Homo sapiens: one gene and its partner. The protein of the gene in region 1 purifies or fractionates together with the protein of each later gene. This does not show direct contact. Each region holds a gene or a part of one and is shown in the gene's direction. Other genes may lie near its edges.

Region 1 (2,943 bases):
ACATTCTCACTTATATGTGGGAGCTAAAATATTTGAACACATGGAAGTAGAGAGTGGAAAAATAGGGCTGGGCGTGGTGGCTTATGCCTGTAATCCCAGCACTTTGGGAGGCCGAGGCGGGAGGATCACTTGAGCCTAGGAGTTCAATGCAAGCCTGGGCAACATACCCATTGCTACAAAAGATAAAAAATTAGCCAGGCATGGTGGCGTGTGCCTAAAATCCCAGCTACTCGGGAGGCTGAGGTGGGAGGATTGCTTGAGCCCAGGGGGTTGAGGCAGCATGATCGCACCACTGCACTTCAGCCTGGGCAACAGAGCAAGACCCTATCTCAAGAAAAAAGAGAGAATGGAAAAATAGGTAACAGAGACTGGGAACGGTGAGGGGCAAGGAGGAGGATGAAGAGAGTTAAAGGGTACAAACCCATACACAGTAAGATAAAAGGAATAAATTCAGTGTTTCATAGCAGAGTAGGATGACCACCCTTAACAAAAACCTATTAATACTCAGGTGATGGACACCCTGAATCCCCTGACTTGATCGCTACACATTATATACATGTAACAGATTTTCTCATGTGCTCCATAAATATGCACAGAAACATTTTAATGGAAAAAACCATACAGGCCAGGCGTGGTGGCTCACACGTGTAATCCCAGCATTTTCGGAGGCCAAGGCAGGAGGATCACTTGAGCCCAGGAGTTTGAGACCAGCCTGGGCAATATAGGGAGACCCCATCTCTAAAAAAAATTTAAAACATTAGCTAGATGTGGTAGAGGCAGGAGAATCACTTGAACCTGGAGGCAGAGGTTGCAGTGAGCCATGATCACGCCATTGTACTTCAGCCTGGGCAACAGAGCAAGACTCTTGTCTCAAAAATAAAACAAACAAAAAAAAACACACAAGTAGTTAATAATCATATAAAAGACTACTCAGCCTTATTAGTAATCAAAGAAATACACATTAATGCTACACATTTAGATACCCTTTATACCCACCCAATTGGCAAAAATTTTAAAGTCTAACCAAGAGTTGGCAAGGATTTGGAACAATGGTCAGGAATTCATAGATACTACTATAGGAGTGTAAATTGATGCAGCCATTTTGGAAATTAGGCCTTATCTTGTACAGTTGACGTGGGTATACTCTGTGACCCAGCTGTTTTAGTCTGTGTGACTGAGAGGAACTTGGAGGAAGTATGTATAAGAATTTTCATAGCAGCAAAAAATCAGGAAACAACCTCAAGATTCATTGATAACAGAATAGGTACATATTGAGCCTAAACATAAAAATGGGGGGAAAAAAGAATAGGTACATAAATTGTGACTGTATTTATAGAATGGAATGTTTATTTGTAATGACTGAATGAATAATCATTTCAACATGAATAAATCTTAGAAAAATTGAATGAAAAAACAAGTTGCAACAGAATACACAAAGTATGATATTTTATAATTTTAGAAAATAAATGATAGCAGTTTTAGGGTCATATACGTATATACTACAACTATAAAAATAAGAAATGAGATGTCACGTAGCAAAAATTATAAAGTGGTAATACTGTCTGTCATTGGGCATATAAGGAAAAGGGTACCTCACATACATTACTGAGGGAAGTACGGAGTTTTATGGTATCTACTTGCCCCAACATTTCTACTTGTATGTGACAAAAGATACCATAAAGAAACTTAAAAATAAGTCTGTTAACTGGGAAAAATATTTGCAACTTTTATATAAAGAGAAAGAATTACGAGATGTATAGGTTATATAAAGATTTATTTCTGTAAATAAGAGACCTAACAGAAGGAAACCGGTCTGTGAAAGATGGCCTTGTAAACATGAAATTATTCCAAACTTTGTGCATAATGAGGGAAATGTTAAAGCAGTGAGGTTCGCTTTTTGTCAGCCGCTAGACTGACAACCATTTTAAAATGTTCATAACAGGCACTCTCATGTACTGCCCCTGGGAATGTAAATGGTACAAATACTCTGGAGGACATTCTGGCATTTTTTCCCTTTTTTCTTTCTGGTTTGACTCTGGGATTTTTTTCCTTCCTTTTTTCCCCCCTTATTTCTCTGTACTTCAATGAATATAAATTGGCACTATCTCTTGACTTTAAGTGAATATAGCTTGTGATCCTTCAAGAAATACATGTGTAGAAATACACGTAAAGAATGGAGGCTGAGTGGGTGGCTCATGCCCATAATCCCGACACCGTGACCAGGAGTGAGACCAGCCTAGGCAACATACTGAGACCTCATCTCTACAAAAATAAAATTAGCTGGTGTGGTGGTGTACACCTGTAGTCCCAGCTACTTGAGAGGCTGAAGTGGGGATATCTTGAGTCCAGGAGGTCAAGGTTGCAATGAGCTGTGATTGTGCCACTGCACTCAGCCTGGTTGACAGAGTGAGACCCTGTCTCAAAACAAAAGAAGAAAAAAGAAAAAGAATGTTTACTGGAAACCACTTAAAACAAACAAACAAACAGAGCTTAAAGGTAAAAATAAAGTCTTTTTGTGAGGGGAAAGATTTTGTACAGTCCTTTTAAAGATGTGTACTAAAAAGCAAGTTGCAAATAGTATCTACATATATAGCATAAAAATCTTAAAATAGTACTGTTTCTTTCTTTCTTTCTTTTTCTGAGACAGAGTCTTGCTCTGTTGCCCAGGGTGGAGTGCAGTGGCGCGATCTTGGCTCACTGCAACCTCCACCTCCCAGCTTCAAGTGATCCTCCTGGGTCAGACTCCCAAGTAGCTGGGATTACAGGCATGTGCCACCACAGCTAATTTTTGTATTTTTAGTAGAGATGAGGTTTTGCCATGTTGGCCAGGCTGGTCTCGAACTCCTGACCTCAGGTGATCTGCCCGCCTTGGCCTCTTAAAGTGCTGGGATTACAGGCATGAGCCACCATGCCTGGCCAATACTTCCGATTTCTATATGTATA
Region 2 (3,662 bases), on another chromosome or scaffold:
TCACAGGGCCTGTGCACATCTGTTCCCTCTGCTTGGACTGCTCTTCTCTCCTCTCTTGCTTGGCTACCTCTTACTCATCCTTCTGGTCTCAAGTATCACTTTCCCAGAGAGGCCTTCCCTAACCTTCCTGAGCACTGCATAGATTAAATTTCCCTAAGACCCCATGTACCTCTCCTTTAGTGTGGATGTTTATCTGCGAGGTGGGGGGCAAGTGAGAGAGACAGAGAGAATAATTTTTTCCTTCACTCTATTCCCTAAGTTTCTTGGACATTGAGACTATGTTTGTGTTTGCCTAGACCTGTATCTCTAACAAACTATATATAATAAGTATTCAGCAAATATTTGTTGAATAAATCAGTGAATTTCTAAGTGGTGCTATTTATTTGTGGCTAAAAGTAGGATAGGAACAGTTGTTGGAAGAGGAAAGATCAAGAGTCCTTTGAGTTTGAGATGGCTGTGAGCCATTGAAGAGTCAGTGTCAGGTAGACAGTCAAGCTCTTGAGTCAGGAGCTCAGAGACTGTTCTCTGAGTCTGGATTTGGATAATACTTTTGGGAGTCATATTATATTTGTATTATTTAATCCTGGGTGAGATGATTTAGAAGGTGCTAGAGAGTGAAGAGAAGAGGACCAGGAAGAACTCCAACTTTTACAAGTCAGGTAGAAGAGGAGACTCTACCAAAGGTCACCAAAAAGGAACATCCAGTGAACAAAGAGTAAAATTCAGAAAGGCTATTATCCGAAATCCAGAGAGAAGAGTGTTCCAAGAAGGCAGTGAAAACCTAGGTTGAGTGATGCTGAGCGACAGAGCAAGATGTCCATATGAGGTACGAGAAGTATCTATGTAGAGGTGCTGGGAGTCTTTGATGAGCCATTTCAATGGAGTAATAGGATGTAAGTGGAGACTGGAGTGGATTGAAGAGTAAAGGGGAGGTAATGGATATGGGTGAAGAGAGTGGGTAGCTGGCAGGAGACGTTAAGGAAGGTTTTCTAACGATGTGACGTTGCAGAGCACATGTGTATCGGGATGTGAATGTGTGTTAGCGTGTGGCACCTTTGTCCATGTGTGGCTTAGTGTGTGTGTTCTTGTGCATTGGATGTGTGTTCGATTCTCAGGGAATTTCAACCCTTGATCTTTGGCTCAGATCTTCATTTAGCATTAGAAATCAATATTTATATTTTTTAGAATTCATATAGCTTTAGTGGATCATAGATATTAACTCACTAGCTCTCAACTCTTTATAGTTGATGAAATTAATAATAAAGCAATGAACTGGCTTATTCAAGGGATCAGGCAAACTATTGATATAGCCGGGCAGGGAAACATGCCTGGAGAGTGTCGTTGGAATTGGTATAATGACCGGTAATAATCTTTTAAAAATACAAGCTATTTACTTTAGTTTTGCATACATCAGGTAGTTTGGGTTTTTTTAAATGGACAGTCTACATTTTCATTTGTTCTGCTGAGGCCAGTAATGGCTATGCTAAACAGTGAGAAGGTGGACAGGAATTTAAAACTGATCACAAATCCAAACAGAGGACTCATTCCCAAATTGGCAAGCATTTATGATGCTATTTTCCTTGCAGGCAATATATGAGCGCCTTTTTTGTTGGATCGTTACTCGCATCAATGATATTATTGAGGTCAAGAACTATGACACCACAATCCATGGGAAAAACACTGTTATTGGTGTCTTGGATATCTATGGCTTTGAAATCTTTGACAACAACAGGTAAACTGGAAAAGATACTTAAAACCTTGTTGCCTGTTTTCTATTTGTTGAAACTTAATTTATTCCTTTTCTTGTAGTTTTGAACAATTCTGTATCAATTACTGCAATGAGAAACTGCAGCAGCTATTTATTCAGCTGGTTCTGAAGCAAGAACAAGAGGAATACCAGCGGGAAGGGATCCCCTGGAAACATGTGAGTGGACTCTTATGGAAAATGCCTTCATGTGTTTCTCATATTATTGATAATGTCAAATTTTATTTTAGGTATTTCTTGATCTTTTGGGGGTATTTGAAACATCTGAACCTTAGCTTTCCTTTTTGGGATATGTAAATACAATTAATTTCATCATTTTTAGGTGGGATTGCTATAATTTGATAGACTGCCTTGTTGATGCCCAGAACATCCTGAGTTAGAACCAGTAAACCTGTTTTCACTTTATGGCTGCTACCACGTGGACTTACTGGTTTATATCTGTCTGTTAGGTTTAGCATACTTTATTAAGTTATACCTTAAATTGGCTGAACTTTGCTTCAGAATCTAGTTTCTTCTTCCCTTTTTCCTCCTTTTTCTCCTCTTCTACTTTGTAGACTATATGGTATTTTATTGTCTTCAGTTAATGTTGTTTATATTCTCTGAAACCTACACATTAAAATACTTGTTTTACTTTGCATTTTCTTGTGTATTACACTTCAATTATCACCTCTACTCTAATCAATCTTTGGGAACTTTTGTATTTGTCAGAGGCAAACTAATCTGGTAAGATATAGCTGGAAAGTATAATGGGTGCACAGTGCAAACCACAGAGATCAAAGCTAAAAGGCATGACTTGTTTGGTTTTTAAATTTCCTGTGATAAGACCTTCTGTTTATGATAGAAATGAGACATAGTAATTTTTCTTGTAAGTTTGTATTTTTAAGCAATTTTGAGAATAAACTTGAAAAATACAAAAACTTTTAAGTTTCTGTAGTTTGAGTTTATATGATTGTTCATCCTCTTGCCAGAGAATAGAAATGAAGCCAGTATTTGTTTTTTGTTATCCAATATAATAGCAGCAAAAAAATATTTGAAATACTATATTTAAATGACTTTTATCTTCCTTCCTACCTATTTTCTATTTCCTCTCATTCTGAAATAAAGAGACAGTGATATAACAAATAGCTTTCCCGCCTCAAAATTGTATCTGCCTTCCATCATGTGTTAAACGTTAGAATACCATAAAACAGTTGCTCAGGTATATTGGCATAAATTTTACCTATCTGCATATAAACCAAAGGGCTATTTTATATAAGAATTATCTATAGTTTGACTTAAATAATGAACTCTCCTAATACAATTAAAATTTAATTCAGTTCAATTAAGTGTATATGAAGCTTTCTAAGAATGAAACTGTTGTATAATATAATACACGGTATAACTGAAGCTTGGATTTTTAATACCAAATTTAATCATAAAACTTGTTATTCAAATGTGATTCCAAGGTACTAGTCAAAAATATCCTTTCACAATCAGAATATCAAATTTCACAGACATAATTGACAACAGGGTAAGTAATGCAGTGGACTGTTCCAAACATCTCAAAAAGAATTAAGAATCCCAAAATGCAAAAAATTTTCGCTAAATAAACCAAGAACTATTTGTCCTAGAGGGAGCAGAAGGCTAACTCCAAGGTAACAGTTACTTACTACATGGCAGATCCCCCCACAATTAGAATCTCTATTCTGGGTAAAACCCCAAACTTCTAAACATAGTGATTCTTTTTAAAAGATTTTTTATTATGGAAAATTTTAAACACACATTAAGAAGACAGACTATAGTACAGTAAACCCTATATACCCATCACCTGGCTTTAACACGTACCAGTTGATTGCCAGTCTTATGCCATCTGTACTATACCCACCTACTCCCAGATTATTTTGAAGCAAATTTCAGA

The links.
Region 2: the proteins of ATF1 (region 1) and MYO1D purify together in Homo sapiens (co-immunoprecipitation; one large-scale study listed by IntAct). This does not show direct contact.

What each region holds. Positions count from the first base shown.
Region 1 is NC_000012.12:50,815,988-50,818,930, forward strand, and holds part of ATF1 (cyclic AMP-dependent transcription factor ATF-1), read left to right. Parts: intron 1-2,943.
Region 2 is NC_000017.11:32,758,552-32,762,213, reverse strand, and holds part of MYO1D (unconventional myosin-Id), read left to right. Parts: intron 1-1,586; coding exon 1,587-1,732; intron 1,733-1,809; coding exon 1,810-1,924; intron 1,925-2,087; coding exon of another isoform or gene 2,088-2,102; exon of another isoform or gene 2,103-2,402; intron 2,403-3,662. UniProt on the Homo sapiens protein: Unconventional myosin that functions as actin-based motor protein with ATPase activity. Plays a role in endosomal protein trafficking, and especially in the transfer of cargo proteins from early to recycling endosomes.